Linked DNA regions of Homo sapiens: region 2 is linked to region 1. The links come from fine-mapping of genetic effects on gene expression. Tissue or cell type: whole blood. Region 1 holds a variant in brackets; the other region holds the start of a gene. All regions are shown on one strand. Distances are from middle to middle.

Region 1 (8,099 bases):
TCCCAGCTACTCAGGAGGCTGAGGCAGGAGAATGGCGTCAACCTGGGAGGTGGAGCTTGCAGTGAGCCAAGATCGCGTCACTGCACTCCAGCCTGGGAGACAGAGTGAGACTCCATCTCAAAAAAAAAAAAAAAGAAAAAGAAAAGAAACCCCCTTTCCTCACATAAATGAATGTGACCATCATTTTCTTCAAGGCTGATGGTAAGGGAGACCCTCTTAGCTTCACCCTCTGTCCTGTTTCAAGGACTCCCTTTGTAGGTACCCACCACCTGGGTCTCCTTCTCTGTGATGACCCCCAGAGCTTGGCAGCGAGTAGTATGCACCTTCCTGGAAACAGGGAACACCTGCCAGGAACAAAGGAGTCTCAGTGAGGTCCCAGATCCCTCCAAGACCATCCTTGAAGGCATGGCAAGAAGTAAAAGATGTAAAGGGTAGGATGGTCAAGGGTGTAGCATACCTTTCGGCCCAGTAGCTGGTTGGAGAGTGTTGACTTCCCTGCATTCGGGGCTCCCAGGAGGACCACTCGTAGGACCCGGGAATTCTCAGGCATATCAGGGTGATGGACCAAGAGGACATCCTGCTCATCTATGTGCAAGTGGGAAGAAGCATGAGACACAGTGGAATCTGGATTTCCTGTCAAGTGCTTGTTCCTGCCCACCCACAAAGGGAGCAGGGGTACAAAATTAGTGCACCAGGTTGAAGTCACCTAGAGCTGACTTTGAGACTTTGGCCCTTAATTTACATTAATTTATAAAGTAACTCCCTGAGCCCTTTAGTTTTCTCATATGTAAAAGTGAGTTGATATTAACAGTACCTACTTACCAGCTTATAATTTTTTTGATGACTAGCAATTGTGTAAAACAACTCAGCACAATACCTGGCACTTAATAATTACTGCATGTAATTATAATGTATAGCTGTGCCTGAGAAGTGAATGTACATGAAAGCAAGCTGGATTACACAAAGCCAGATATTTCCTCAGCTCTCATTCTCTCACCCTACTAAGGGTGCTATGAAGGCCCTGCAAGCTTTCCCAGTCTTTTTTTTTTTTTTTCCTGAAGGAGGGACGGGAGGAAGGGCTAAGGGTCAAGAAGGGAGAGGGCCCAGTCTTTTTATATTATCTTCTTATGACACCATTTTGCAATGACCAGTTTGTGTCCAGTCTCCAATACCGGACACTGTTTGAAGAATAAAGTGTGCTGTTTTCCAGGTGTAACTGTGTCTTAACAAGAAGATGAGGCCCAACATGCATTTACTGGATCAAATTTGCTTCCCATGTCGGGGTGCAGAGCCATAGTTCCACTTTGTGGCCCTTCAATCTCATGCTCTTTAGTGAGCGTCTCTGGTTGTGACCAGATCGTTTCCTTCTCCCACTCAAACTGTTATTTCTCTCCTGAGAGATTTTTCACTGCTCCTCCCTGTCAGGGCCTCAAAATTGTTTTCTATAAAATAGAATCAAAGACAGTATCCCCAGAAACCTTTCAATACTAAAAACATGACAGTTCCGAGCAAACCTATCAGGGCGCTTTACCTCTGTTCATGGACACCGCGGGGACGCAAGGAGTCACCGAACTGTCGGGCTGAGAGAATCCGAGGAAGTGGTCCAGGGCAGAGCCCTGGCCATTACTGCGAGAAGCCGAGGCCAAGCGGGGACCAGAGAAAGCGGACCCCGCGACGCAGGACACGCACCTCCGTTGGAAGCCTAAGAGTGAGGAAAAAGGGATCACCCGCTCCCTCGCGACATGAGGGCCCACCTGCCAGACTCTTAACACCGATTGAACAAGCCTAGCCCCGCGCCAGCTGGGGGCAGCCATTACAGCCGCAAGGCACTGCGGGAACCGACCAGGAGCGCTCCTACGATTGAACAGAGCGGCTGACGAACCAGCGAGTAGGAGAGAGGTAGGTCTGCCCAAATTGAAAGCCGAGACACATGGGATGTGGGCGGGAGGAGGAATTGCTCTGGAGACTGGTGGAGGCTAAGGAAAGGGGAAAATGTGTATTTAGAGTCTGTGCAAGCATGACGGTAGTTTTGGACTCCCATACACAACGTATTTTTTTCTTCTGCCAAAGTTTTGTAAACGGCCCTTCTGGCCATGTCTCCTAAAAGACTACATTTCCCATGAGGCCAAATAGCAGAAATCGTCCTCCCATCGAGGGAGGAATGGTTGTGGGAGTGGGAGGGGGCACTGTTCCGCCTGTCCCCGTAAGGGTTTTGTTGTTGTTTGTTCCTAGTCCTTTCCATCCTTTGGCCTGCAGGATCCTCTCCCAGCCTTAATTTGGCTTGCCCTAGAGGTCAGCGGTGGCCCCGGGCTGTCTGCACCTTTGCTTTAGGCTAGGTTCCTGGAAGGAGTGGTCCTTGGGTCGGTGTTTGGGATGAAGAGCAGGTCTGGATTTCCCTCCTGTAAGCCTTGGCTACTGTCTACTATCTGAGGTCATTCCTTTATGGAGAACAACCAGAGGGTTTGCAAAGGAGGAAGAAGTGGCTTAGCCACCTAAGGTCTCCTAGACCGCTCTAGCAGCCGGAGAAACTCATTTACCTTGCTCTGTTTGAGGCCTTGAGCCCTCTTCATCCTTTGTAGCCTCTAAATCAAACACTTGAAACAGAGAGCTGGGCGCGGTGGCTCACGCCTGTAATCCCAGCACTTTGGGAGGCCGAGGCGGGCGGATCACGAGGTCAGGAGATCGAGACCATCCTGGCTAATACGGTGAAACCCGGTCTCTACTAAAAATACAAAAAATTAGCCGGGCGTGGTGGCGGGCGCCTGTAGTCCCAGCTACTCAGGAGGCTGAGGCAGGAGAATGGCGTGAACCTGGGAGGCGGAGCTTGCAGTGAGCTGAGATTGCACCACTGCACTCCAGCCTGGGCGATAGAGCGAGACTCCATCTCAAAAAAAAAAAAAAAAAAAAGAAACAGAGATAAACTTTGGTAGAGGGGGTGTTGAGGAAGGAAGGTTCTTAGAGTCAGTGCTCATTCTGTCACCCAGGCTGGAGTGCAGTGGCATGATCATAGCTCACTGGAGCCTGAAACTCTTGGGTTCAAGCGATCTTCCAGTTTCAGCCCTCTTGAGTAGCTAGGACTACAGGCACATGCTAACATGCCTGACTATGGAGGAAGATGTATAAAGCATCCACTAGCAAGCTCTGTCCTGTGCTGGGAATACATCAGTGAACAAAACAGACAGAAATCTCTATCACGGGATTTCAGGGACCCCATCTCTAAAATAACAATAGCAACAAAAATACAACACAATACAGTATAACAACTATTTATATAGCACTTACATTGTATTAGATATTATAAGTAATCTAGAGACTTTAAGATGACTTAAAGTCATCTCTTACTACAAGAGAATCAGCAGATTTTGGTATCCATAGGATGGGAGGGTGGAAATTATGGTATCTAAATTCCCTGGGAAGACACCACTGTATATTCTGGCTATCCTCAATTTCTCTTCTCCCATTCTTTCTTTTATTTTTATTTTTTTGAGACAGGGTCTTGCTCTCTCACCCAGACTGGAGTGCAGTGGTGCAATCATGGCTCACTACAGCCTCGACCTCCCAGTCTCAAGCGTTCCTCCCACCTCAGCCCTGCTAGTAGCTGTGACTACAGACCTGCCGCTGCCATGCCTAGTAATTCTTTTTTTTTTTTTTTTTTGAGACAGAGTTTCACTCTTGTTGCCCAGGCTTCAGTGCAATGGTGCAATCTTGGCTCACTGCAACCTCTACTTCCCGGGTTGAAGTGATTTTCCTGCCTCAGCCTCCCGAGTAGCTGGGATCACAGGCATACACCACCATGCCCGGCTAATTTTGTATTTTCAGTAGAGACGGGGTTTCTCCATGTTGGTCAGGCTGGTCTTGAACTCCCGACCTCAGGTGATCCGCCCACCTCAACCTCCCAATGCGCTGGGATTACAGGCGTCAGCCACCTCGCCCAGTGCTAATTTTTAAATCTTTTGCAGAGACAGAGTCTCACTATGTTGCCCAGGCTGGTTACGAACTCCTTGCCTCAAGTGATCCTCTGCCTTGGCCTCCCCAAGTGCGAGTTTACAGGCATGAGACACCATGCTTGGCCTTTCCCCAGATATTTTTTTCTTCAGTTGGTTGAATTCCTGGATGCTGAACCCTTGGATATTGAGGACCAGTATTGAGCAGGAGAGGGCTGTGGGGTTAACAGAGGATTTTCTTTTCTTTTTTAAGAGGAAAATTTTATTCTTACTGAGATGGAGTCTGGCTCCCCTAGGCTGGAGTGCAATGGTTGAATCTCACTGCAACCTCCACCTCCCAGACCCAAGCAATCCTCCCTCTTCAGCCTCCCAAGTAGCTGGGACTACAGATGCGGGCCACCACATCCGGCTAATTTTTTGGTAATTTTTTTGTACAGATGGGGTTTCACCATGTATTCCAGGTTGGTCTTGAACTCTGCCTACTCCATCTCCCAAAGTGCTGAGATAACAGGCGTGAGTCACTGTACCTGGCCTGAACATTTTTTTTTGGAGACAGAGTCTCGCTCTGTCGCCCAGGCTGGAGTGCAGTGGCACGATCTTGGCTCTGCCTCCCGGGTTCAGGCCATTCTCCTGCCTCAGCCTCCCGAGTAGCTGAGACTGCAGGCGCCCACCACCATGCCCGGCTAATTTTTTGTATTTTTAGTAGAGACGGTGTTTTACTGTGTTAGCCTGGATGGTCTCGATCTCCTGACCTCGTGATCCACCCGCCTTGGCCTCCCAAAGTGCTAGGATTGCAGGCGTGAGCCACCGCGCCAGGCCACGTTGCTTTTTTTAATTAAAAAAAAATTTTTTTGAGCCACAGTCTCACTCTGTTGTCTGAGCTGGAGTGTAGTGGTTTAATTTTGGCGCACTGCAACCTCCACCTCCTGGGCTCAGGTGATTCCCCCATTTTAGCCTCCCAGGTAGCTGGGACTACAGATGTGCCTGACCACGCCCAGCTAATTTCTGTTTTTGGTTTTTTTTTTTTTTTTGAGATG[G/A]AGTCTTTCTCATTGCCCAGGCTGGAGTGCAGTGGTGCGATCTCAGCTCACTGCAACCTCCACCTCCCTGGTTCAAGTGATTCTCCTGGCTCAGCCTCCCGAGTAGCTGGGATTACAGGTGCCCGCCACCACACTGGCTAATTTTTGTATTTTTAGTAGAGACAGGGTTTCGCCATGTTGGCTAGGCTGGTCTCAAACTCCTGACCCGGTGATCTGCCCGCCTTGGCGTCCCAAAGTGCTGGGATTACAGGGATGAGTCACTGCACCTAGCCTAATTTCTGTATTTTTTATAGAGACAGGCTGTCACCATGTTGCCCAGGTTGGTCTTTTGTTTGTTTGTTTGTTCGTTTGAGACTCCCAGGCTGGAGTGCAATGGCATGATCTTGGCTCACTGCAACCTCTGCCTCCCGGGTTCAAGCTATTTTCCTGCCTCAGGCTCCCAAGTAGGTGGGGTTACAGTCTTCTGCCACCACGCCCGGCTAATTTTTTGTATTTTTAGTAGAGATGGGGTTTCACCATGTTGGCCAGGCTGGTCTCGAACTCCTGACCTCAGGTGATCCACCCACCTCGGCCTCCCAAAGTGCTGGGCTTACAGGTGTGAGCCACCATGCCTGGCTTGGCCCAGGCTGGTCTTGAACTCCTGGGCTCAAGTAAGCCATCTGCTTTGACCTCCCAAAGTGCTGAGATTACAGGTGTGAGTTACTGCCCCTAGCCTTGGAACATTTTTTTGTTTTGTTTTGTTTTGTTTTGAGATGGAGTCTCCCTCTGTCGCCCAGGCTGGAGTGCAGCGGTGCGATCTCAGCTCACTGCAACCTCCACCTCCTGGGTTCAAGCAATTCTTCTGCCTCAGCCTCCTGAGTAGGTGGGATTACAGGCGCACCCCACCAAGCCCGGCTAATTTTTGTAGTTTTAGTACAGACGGGGTTTCACCATATTGGCCAGGCTTGTCTCAAACTCCTAACCTTGTGATTTGCCCACCTTGGCCTCCCAAAGCGTTGGGATTACAGGTGTGAGCTGCCATGCCTGGCGGAACATTTTTTTACAATTTTTGATTTTTATAGAAAGAACCTGTTCAAAATTGGTCAGACACTGCACACGAGAAGTTTCTAGAACCACAATGATGAAAACAACAAAAACCGACAGACAGAAGAAAATAGGCAAACAGACAGAACCTACAAACAGAACAAACAGAACAAAAATACCCGAGACTAAACTGTTTCAAAATCAAGGTCCCAGTTGACCAAAGGATTCTAAAGAAACTCATGTGGCCGGCCGGGCGCGGTGGCTCAAGCCTCTAATCCCAGCACTTCGGGAGGCCGAGGTGGGCGGATCACAAGGTCAGGAGATCGAGACCATCCTGGCTAACACGGTGAAACTCTGTCTCTACTAAAAATACAAAAAAGCCGGGCGTGGTGTCAGGCACTTGTAGTCCCAGCTACTTGGGAGGCTGAGGCAGGAGAATGGCGTGAACCCAGGAAGCGGGGCTTGCAGTGAGCCGAGATCGCACCACTGCACTCCAGCCCGGGCGACAGAGCAAGACTCTGTCTTAAAAAGAAAAAAAAAAAGAAACTCATATGGCCAAGGGTGAGGAGACTCCAATGCCTGAGCAAGTACCCAGAGTGGAAGGAAAAACAGTTCAGAAATTCAAATCGCAATCCCTGCCCGCTGGCCCCTCATGCTATCAAGAGTGAGGCAAAGGGCTTCACAGCTTTATGGGGCAGAGAAGAGAGTGATGACAATAGGACAATAGCTTAAATAATGGGAGGAGGGGGAATTTTTTTTTGAGACAGAGTTTCACTCTTGTTGGCCAGGTTGGAGTGCAATGGCATGACCTCGGCTCACTGCAACCTCTGCCTCCTGGGTTCTAAGTGATTCTCCTGCCTTAGCCTCCTGAGTAGTTGGGATTACAGGCATGCGCCACCACGCCTGGCTAATTTTTTGTATTTTTAGTAGAGACGGGGTTTCTCCATGTTGGTCAGGCTGGTCTCGAACTCCCAATCTCAGGTGATCCGCCCTCCTCGGCCTCCCAAAGTGCTGGGATTACAGGCGTGAGCCACTGCGCCTGGTGAGGAGGGGAATTTTTACATTTCAACTTTTTGTTTTCTCTTCCCTTATAGGGAAAGAGGAGAGAGTGGTAGCTTGAAGTTAAGGAGAAAACAGTGATTTTTTTTCTTCTTCTTTAATGTAGAAAACATCTAGGAATGGCAGGCTGTAATGAAAAAAATGCCAAATTTGGCCACTTCCTAAAGAGGAGGTGGGCGCTTGTGTGGGTTGGTTATGAGAGTTACCAACCTTGGGTGTTGCAGCTTCTTGGAAGAAAACACTCCAGATACAAAGATTTGAGGGTGAGAGAGTAGAAGGGGGGCCAGAATGGGCAACCCTTAAGTGGTACCAAAATTAGCTGCGGCCTGCTCCCTGCTGGTGAGTTCCTGGAGTGTAGAGAATAGCAGGGAAGGAATTGGGGTAGAAGAGAAAATAAGTTGATATGCTGATTTAAAAAAAACAACTCTACTCAAGGCTCCATGGCCCCGGGTCCGAAGAGTAGAAAATCGCTAAGTGTCAATTACAGTGCTTTCTTGGGTCATCCCCCACTTTTTTTTTTTTTTTTTGAGACGGAGTCTCGCTGTCTCCCAGGCTGGAGTGCAGTGGCGCAATCTCGGCTCACTGCAAGCTCCGCTTCCCGGGTTCTCGCCATTCTCCTGCCTCAGCCTCCCCAGTAGCTGGGACTACAGGTGCCCGCCACCACGCCCGGCTAATTTTTTGTATTTTTAGTGGAGACGAGATTTCACCATGTTAGCCAGGATGGTCTCGATCTCCTAACCTCGTGATCCTCCCGCCTCGGCCTCCCAAAGTGCTGGGATTATAGGCGTAAGCCACCGCGCCCGGCCGGGTCATCCCCCACTTAACATGAGCTCAGTTCTGGTGGGGAATCAGTGCTGCCAGGACTAGGGGTATGGGCTGGTGGCCCAGTCTAGACTCTTGGCTCCCAGGGGAGAGGGGAAGGTGGCGCCCCCTGCTGGAGACTATATGACAACAACATATATTCCTATATTTGAACCACTGCGGGTCTTCTGAGCCATTTCCCTACTTGAATTTCTTTTTTTCTTTCTTTGAGACA
Region 2 (8,099 bases), 140 kb after region 1:
TAATAGACGCGGGGTTTCTCCATGTCACTCAGGCTGGTCTCGAACCCCTGACCTCAAGTGATCCGCCCCCCCTCGGCCTCCCAAAGTGCTGGGATTACAGACGTGAGCCACCGCGCCCGGCCTCTGGGCTGATCCTGCCAGTTTTGTAAATGCAGCAGAAACAATCTCCTCATACTTCCAATTAGAGAAGCACACTGGACACAATTTGCGTTTGAGAAACCATCACGCAGAGTGAGTGAATTTCCAAATTACCAATGGAGAATACCCAAATCTTTTCATGGGTACAGGGGGCAGTACTGACTTGTTTCTCCTGGGAGCGCTCTTCCGAGGATATTTGGGCTGTCTCCGGAGTCGCAGTGTCTTCGGCCGCCGGAAGGTGGGTGACGTGCGGATCTTCTTCTTTTTGTGGCTGTGGACACCTTTCAACACTGCCTTCTTGGCCTTTAAAGCCTTCGCTTTGGCTTCAGCTTTAGGAGGGGCAGGAGCTGGGAGAAAAGGAAAGAAAACGTGGGTGCGGGATTTAGAAATCGGTCACTTCCGGCCCCAAGAACTGCAGTGGGCCACCCTGGCCACAGGTGCATCAGTGGTTCCTTTGAAGACATCACAAGTGTCAGGAGATTAAAACTTTTCCATCATATGCACGATACCAGAGGCGAAAGCGACCAACTCTAAGTAACTCCAGGGATACGACTATGAAACAAAGTAGCACTGAATGAACGCTTGATACTTTCCAGAAAATGTCCTACGAATTTTACACATACCCCATCGCAAAACCACGCTGCGGAGAGAGGGGCGGGTAATGTAGCCCGGTTGAACATGAACCAGAAGGAAAATGGTTAAAGCTGAGGGCACTAATTCCTTACAGGCCCGGGGACATGGAGCTCCAACCAGTGGATGCATGTAGCTTCCCAGAACCGAATGTCTGGCCCTCCCTGGCGGATGATGCCTGCCGCGTTGCCCCCCCCCAACTCCCTCTACCGGAACTCAGCCCACGAGGCTGGGCCCACGCGGCCCACGTATACTGCAGCGTGTCCGAAACGCAGGGAGCAGCCCCGGAGCAGAGCCCTCAGGGCTTAGCCCAGCAGCCGTGTTCCCAATTCGTTCGCTCTGCGGCGCGGCAATCCCCGGTAAACCAGCTGCGGCCCCATCACCAACACACACCTTCCTTCTTCGCTTTCGGCGCCATCTTGTGAAAAGGGTCTCCAATGCTCGTTCCCACGGGCTTATAGCGCCAAAGAGCACTAAAGACTCGCGATGCTTTGTACTTAGAGCTGATTGGGTAATTTGCAGAGCGGCGCCCTCTGGGAACGGTAGTTAGGTTTAATTTCTTTTTCGTGCGTGAACAAACATGCGCCACTCCTCCCCTCAAAGGCACTAAAGCTTCATGGGGGTTGTAGTTTTTTGTTTTTTGTTTTTTGTTTTTTTTTTGAGCGCTCTGTCGCCCAGGCTGGAGTGCAGTGGCGCGATCTCGGCTCACTGTAAGCTCCGCCTCCCGGGTTTACGCCATTCTCCTGCCTCAGCCACCAGAGTAGCTGGGACTACAGGCGCGTGCCACCATGGGGATTGTAGTTTTTTGAAGACACGCGTTTATTTGCTCAGGCCAGCGGACGGCGTAGCCGGCTGGCGCTCGGGTCTGGTCCCGGGAGCTTCCTATCTTGAGCAACTGCCAGTCTCAGGGAAGAGGATTGCCATGCCAGGAGGCAGGAACGCTGCCAAGAGGAAAGAACACATTTGGATTGACTCGGGAGTTAGATACAGCTAAGTTCTAGAGTGCTGGAGCAGGATTTGCTCGGTCGAACTGAGGTCCAGAGAGGAATGTGGTTTATCAATAACACAGTGATTTGGTGGCAGAAAAAAATCAAGTCAGGGCCGGGCGCGGTGACTCACGCCTGTAATCCCAGCACTTTGTGAGGCCGAGGTGGACGAATTGCTTCGAGCCCAGGAGTTCGAGACCACCCTGGGCAACACGGCGAAACCCTGTCTCTACAAAAGAATACAAAAATTAGCCGGGCGTGGTGGTGCGTGCCTGTAGTCCCAGTTCCTTGGGAGGCTGAGGTGGGAGGATCGCTTCAGCCCTGGAGGTCGAGGCTGCAATGAGCCATTCCAGCCTGGGTGGCAGAGTGAGACCCTGTCTCAAAATAAATAAATAAATAAATAAATAAATAATCGAGTCACGAGGGGGAAGTGTCAGAGGAAGTACAAGGCGGCCACACCTGCCCCTCTTTACCTGCGACACTGATACTGTCAAGTTTTACTGCGTTTCCTGATAATGCATTTGAAGTTCTATGAAAATTCCACACATTTCTCCAAGATTCGCTAGTTTTTCCGGTTAGTAACTTCACTCACAATCCCCTGCCCTAAACTAGTCTTCCCTTCCGTGTCCTGGTCATCTTTACATCCTCAAATTCAGCTCCAGACACAGAGAAAGGTTTCTTAACACTCAGGTTCGCTTCTCCTAAGGTGTGTGCCTAACCCATCCCCACTTGATCCTTTCTTCTTCCCTCTCCCTTCATAAAACCAGACATGTCCCCTTTGACGGTGAAATTGATTGTGCACTGCCCCCTCTTCTATCCTGCAGGACTTTGCACAAAGGAGTTGTCCCTGGGGGATAGATTCCAATGGGGCCAGAACAATGAACACCCATACCAGAGGGGAGTCCCCGCCTCCCAGAGCGGAGACCACCCCGAAGAGCAGAGTTTCCGGGTCCACTTAGCCCTTCTTTAACCTCCCTCGAGGGAACTTGATCTTCAGCCCTCCCACCTCACAATCTACACAGCAGCCTTGAAGGAAAAGACGCCAGACTTCAGACGTCTCTCTCCTCGGTGGGCACCTCATTCTAACCCTGGCACCCCCTTCGCACGCTTCCCCTCCACCATCCTCACCCCCGACCTCCCAGGGCAGAAGGGCGAGAGGGGGCAGACTCTATGAGTCACCTCCCAGGCCTGGAGTTGAGGAGGGAAGCGCCGCCTCTCCTTGGGCCCCTTCTCTCCCCCTTTCCCCTCCCTGCTGGTTCCTGGCATCGCCAGATGCTGCGCAGCAGTCTCCGATTCCCCATCACCAATTCGGCTGGGTAAGGGTCCCCATGAAGGCGCAGCCGGGTATAGAGGTGCAGGGGAGAGCAGCCTGGGGAGTCCCTATCTGGATAGGCTCCAGCCTGGGTCGGGGCGGTCCTGGTGCCCGGTGAAGCGTCAAAAGAGGGAGCCTGAGCGGGGCAACGCAGAAGGGTGGAGAGGAGGGGGTGGCGAGGGCGGGCAGCGAGGCCTGGAGCCGCCAGGAGAGGGGCGGGGGGCGGCCCTTCTCCAGGAATTTCCGGGGATCGTGTTACAGCGTTGGCGGAGCCCGAGCGGAGTGGGACTCGAGGCCCTGTAGCCGGACTGGGCCCCTCGCCCCCTCCTCCAGCGGCCTGCGGGCCTTGGCAGCGCCGCCCCTGCCCACACTGACCCCGTGTGGCGGGGCCGCTCCGCGCCCCCGGGCCGCTCTGTAATGGTAGGGCAGCCTCAGCCCCGAGATGACGTCGGGTCTCCGCGGCCCCGGGTTATTGTAGGAACCATCCGGCCCCGCGTAATCGTAGGAACTATCCGGCCCCGCGTAATCGTAGGGTCTGCGCGGGCCCGGCCCCCACCAGACGGGACTCCCCGCCCCCAATTGGCGGCCGAAGAGTCTCCTCGCCCCAGAGTCATCTTCGGGACGCCCAGGGCCCGGGTGATTTTGGGCTCGCCGCGGCCCCGGGTGATTGTTTCATCTCCGTGGCCCGCGGTGGTCGTAGCGTCTCCGAGACCGCGGACTCCCGTAGGGTCCCCGTGGCCCCGAGTTGTAGTCGGGACACCCCGGCCGCGGGTGATCGTCGGGTCTCCACGCGCCCGGGTCGCTGACGCGGATCCGGCCTCGGCGCCTTCTCAGGGCGCCCTGCAAGGCCGCAGGCAGGATGAACATTCTGGCACCCGTGCGGAGGGATCGCGTCCTGGCGGAGCTGCCCCAGGTAGGCGCCGGGGCCACGTCGGGCTTCAGTCTACAGCCCGGGGTGTGGGCGAGGAGGAGGCGGCACCAGACCAGTTAGAGGACTGGGCCCAGCCCTGCCACCCAGCTAGGCCTGGTGCTTCTGGGTGGTCCCTGCACTCCACCCCTACCCGGGCCGCTTGGCTGCGGGACAAGGGCCAGGAGTAGGAAGCTCCATTCTCTTCCATCCTTCCCACTAAGTGCCTGAGGAAGGAGGCCGCTTTGCACGGGCACAAAGACTTCCACCCCCGCGTCACCTGCGCCTGCCAGGAGCACCGGACAGGCACCGTGGGGTGAGTTAGGGACACCCACAACAAAGAGAGGAGGTCCCAGGAAACTCTGTAGTCATAGCGAGGGTAAACAACCACCCCCTTGGGGCTTCATTTCAGCCCCTACCAGCTATATGGTTATTTCCCCCTCTTTAAGCCCCTGTATCCCCTCCTTTTCTCCCAACAAGGTTGTTGTGAGTTCTATGAGATGGGGTTGGGTAGAAGGGTGGCAGCTGGATTTCTGAGTAGAGACTAAGGTGTCTGAAATGGGAAGGTGGTCACCTGCTCAGATCCCCACATAGCATCCATGGAGCCCCAGGGCAGGGGTCTGGCTGTGCTTACAGGGATGAGTCTTATTGTGGGTTTTAAAGGTAATACTGATAACAGTTGGCACCATTAATTAAGCATTTGCTGTGTGCCAGGCAGTGTTGGGTACTATCATCTTTATTGAATGGAAAAGTCCATCACTTAAGATATATCCTGATTTCAGACATTAAAATGCGGGGGGGAGGGTGTCTTAGAATATAGGACATTTATCTCATTTTAACCTTCACAACGACCCAGTAAAATATATACTAACTTTACTTAAATGTTTAAACTGAGGCTTAGAGAGGCTAAATAACGTGTCCAAAGTCACACAGCTAATCAGTGTGAGAGCTGGGATTCAAATTCATGTCTCTCTGCTTCTGGAGCACAAAACACTCCTCCTCCCCAGCACACCTGTCCACGCAGCTGCCTGGGATGCCTGGTGTCTATAATACCCTCAGCCTGGGTGCAGCTACCTTTCTGGACCTAGTCGGGAGCATTGGAACTCCCTAGGGTGAAAGAGCTCGTGCCCACTCCCCTTGCCCACTCTTGTGTCCAGCAGATTTAAGATCTCCAAGGTCATTGTGGTGGGGGACCTGTCGGTGGGGAAGACTTGCCTCATTAATAGGTAAGGGGGTGCTGGAGCTGAGCTGGGCAGGGTGGGGCCAAGCCTAGCCAGGTGGGCTGGCTCCAGATCACAGCATCTGGTACCCTCTCAGGTTCTGCAAAGACACCTTTGATAAGAATTACAAGGCCACCATTGGAGTGGACTTCGAGATGGAACGATTTGAGGTGCTGGGCATTCCCTTCAGTTTGCAGCTGTGAGTGCTTCCACACCCCTTCCAGCTATCCCTTCTCCCCAGCACCCACACCCCCCAAGATACATACCTGTGCTTCACTCTTCCTTCCTTCCAGTTGGGATACCGCTGGGCAGGAGAGGTTCAAATGCATTGCATCAACCTACTATAGAGGAGCTCAAGGTAAGGGGCTGGGTGAAGTGGGGTAGGTGGGTCTCAGAGTGCACATGGCTTCTCATATGGAGCTGGAAGGATTGGGGAAATGAGCAGTAGTGTCTTCCCTGTCAACCTGGGGCTGTTTCTGCCACTCTTCCAGCCATCATCATTGTCTTCAACCTGAATGATGTGGCATCTCTGGAACATACCAAGTAAGTGAGCATCCTGCAATATAATGGGAGGCTCCGGGAAGAGAGGGTTCAGAACAGAGGGGTGGTCAGGAAGAAGAAGAATGCATGTAGGACCAGAGAGGGGGTAATTGGGCCTATGAATGTCAGTGGGAGGGGCCCTGCAGACTCACTCATCCCTTACTTTCCACCTCCCATGGCAGGCAGTGGCTGGCCGATGCCCTGAAGGAGAATGACCCTTCCAGTGTGCTTCTCTTCCTTGTAGGTTCCAAGAAGGATCTGAGTGTGAGTGTGCCAGTGGGGGGACTTCCCAGCTTGGTGAGGGAATGCCCCCCTCTGACTCTGGCCTTCCCTCAGACCCCTGCTCAGTATGCGCTGATGGAGAAAGACGCCCTCCAGGTGGCCCAGGAGATGAAGGCTGAGTACTGGGCAGTCTCATCTCTCACTGGTGAGTTGGAGGCTTTAGGGCTCTGCTGTGACACTCTTGCCTGGCTCTCCTCTCACTGCTACACCTCCAGCTGTGCCCTGTGTCCCCAGACCCAGCACTGCCCCTGAGCACCTATCTGCTCTCTGTGTCAGGTGAGAATGTCCGAGAATTCTTCTTCCGTGTGGCAGCACTGACCTTTGAGGCCAATGTGCTGGCTGAGCTGGAGAAATCGGGGGCTCGACGCATTGGGGATGTTGTCCGTGAGTGCTTGCCTGGTTGAGGGTGGCAGAGGGCACAGTGAGCCTCCAATCCCTGCTTCACATATTTTCCACCCTTCTTTAGGCATCAACAGTGATGACAGCAACCTCTACCTAACTGCCAGCAAGAAGAAGCCCACATGTTGCCCATGAGGGCTGAGGAGACTGTTCAGAGACTGCCCAGCCCTAGGGCACTGTGCCACCCTCATTCCTCCAGAGCTTGACCCCTGGACATTTGCACTGACTTTATCCAGACCAAAGAGCTGCCTCTTGGTGGCAGTATTCCCACAGAGGGGTAGCTGGGATCATGCTAGTCACTTCCTGCCCCCAGGCACCGTGCCAAAGACTGGATGCCCCCTACTCCTCAGGGGACTGTCCAGGGCGCCCAGTGGTAGTGAGGGAGAGTGTCTCTGTTCTTTTGCTCAGCCTGCTGGGCCCTTTGTGTTTGAGGATGCTTAATGATTCCAGCCTCTCACTGTGCCTTATGCATTAAAATTTCTTTGTTACGAGCACTTTGGGGCTGGAGTTCTTTGTTGGGGATGATGGATGTGGAATGGGCATGACTGTGTGGCCATTTTGGCACTAGAGTCCCCTGGGGATGCTGTGCTGGCCATCCCTGGCCCCTGGGCAGGTTCAGGTAGGCTGGGAGCTGAAACATCAGTTTGGGGGCTGCACTGGGCCCTCACTGGGTGAAGTCTGAATGGCTGGCTTTGAGAGCCCTTTCCCCTGATCCTTTCCCCACACGTGTCCTCCTACTTGGTGCTTATACCCAAATTTTCACCACTGGAGAATCTTTTTCTTTTTTTCACCCTTTTCTTGCCTTCCCTTTAAGAAGTACTTTTCCAGGCAGGGTGCGGTGGCTCGTGCCTGTAATCTCAGCACTTTGGGAGGCCAAGGCAGGCAGATCACTTGGATTCAGGAGTTCGAGACCAGCCTGGCCAACATGGTGAAACCCGCGTCACCATTAAAATCCAAAAATTAGGCCGGGCGCGGTGGCTCATGCCTGTAATCCCAGCACTTTGGGAGGCTGAGGCGGGCGGATCACGAGGTCAGGAGATAGAGACCATCCTGGCTAACATGGTGAAACTAAAAATGCAAAAAATTAGCCAGGCGTGGTGGCTGGTGCCTGTAGTCCCAGCTACTTGGGAGGCTGAGGCAGGAGAATGGCCTGAACCTGGCAGGCGGAGCTTGCAGTGAGCCGAGATGGCACCACTGCACTCCAGCCTGGGTGACAGAGCGAGACTCTGTCTCATAAAAAAAAATAAATAAAATAAAATACAAAAATTAGCCGGGCGTGGTGGTGCATGCCTGTAACTCCAGCTACTTGGGAGGATGAGGCAGGAGAATTGCTTGAACTCAGGAGTTATAACCATTAACTTTTCTTTCTTTTTTTTTTTTGTTTGTTTTTTTGGTTGTTTATGCCATTAACTTTTATAAGAAAGAAAGGTGACCAAGACCCTGGCTCCCTGTTGACATCTAACCCAGAGTTCCAGAGTAGCTGGAAGCACCTCAGACATCTGGGTCAACAAAGGAGGACTTATGGCCTCGTGTCATCCTGGGAGGCTAAGGGGGTGTCCAAGTTAGAAGGCAGATTCTGGCTCCCAGTTGCCAAGTGCTCTGTCTGTTCCATTCCTGGTTCCATTCTCACCAGGATGGTTGGTTTTTCTGCACACTTCCCTTCTCCTGGCTTCCCCTCCCTCGCA

The links. PIP is the estimated chance that this variant, and not a neighbour inherited with it, causes the effect.
Region 2: RAB34 starts here. The variant in region 1 is fine-mapped to the expression of RAB34 in whole blood (INTERVAL, PIP above 0.99).

What each region holds. Positions count from the first base shown.
Region 1 is chr17:28,848,750-28,856,848 of GRCh38, reverse strand. It overlaps ERAL1 (Era like 12S mitochondrial rRNA chaperone 1), which reads right to left and starts at 1,833. Exons shown (of 10, transcript NM_005702.4): 1 at 1,532-1,833; 2 at 458-585; 3 at 267-344. The coding sequence starts at 1,814. It also overlaps a transcript of FAM222B not described here. RefSeq lists enhancers at 1,162-1,667, 1,522-1,871, 1,668-2,174, 2,172-2,221, 2,175-2,680 and a silencer at 7,989-8,038. The variant G/A (reference allele first, on the strand shown) is at 4,982.
Region 2 is chr17:28,713,093-28,721,191 of GRCh38, reverse strand. It overlaps RAB34 (RAB34, member RAS oncogene family), which reads left to right and starts at 3,324. Exons shown (of 10, transcript NM_031934.6): 1 at 3,324-3,979; 2 at 4,198-4,289; 3 at 5,134-5,199; 4 at 5,291-5,392; 5 at 5,487-5,551; 6 at 5,685-5,736; 7 at 5,916-5,997; 8 at 6,070-6,160; 9 at 6,292-6,399; 10 at 6,482-6,908. The coding sequence starts at 3,926. The coding sequence ends at 6,549. It overlaps RPL23A (ribosomal protein L23a), which reads right to left and starts at 1,207. Exons shown (of 5, transcript NM_000984.6): 1 at 1,162-1,207; 2 at 302-485. The coding sequence starts at 1,186. It overlaps SNORD42B (small nucleolar RNA, C/D box 42B), which reads right to left and starts at 642; the gene lies at 576-642. RefSeq lists enhancers at 493-652, 993-1,212, 1,643-1,692, 1,349-1,950, 1,951-2,551 and a silencer at 3,232-3,491.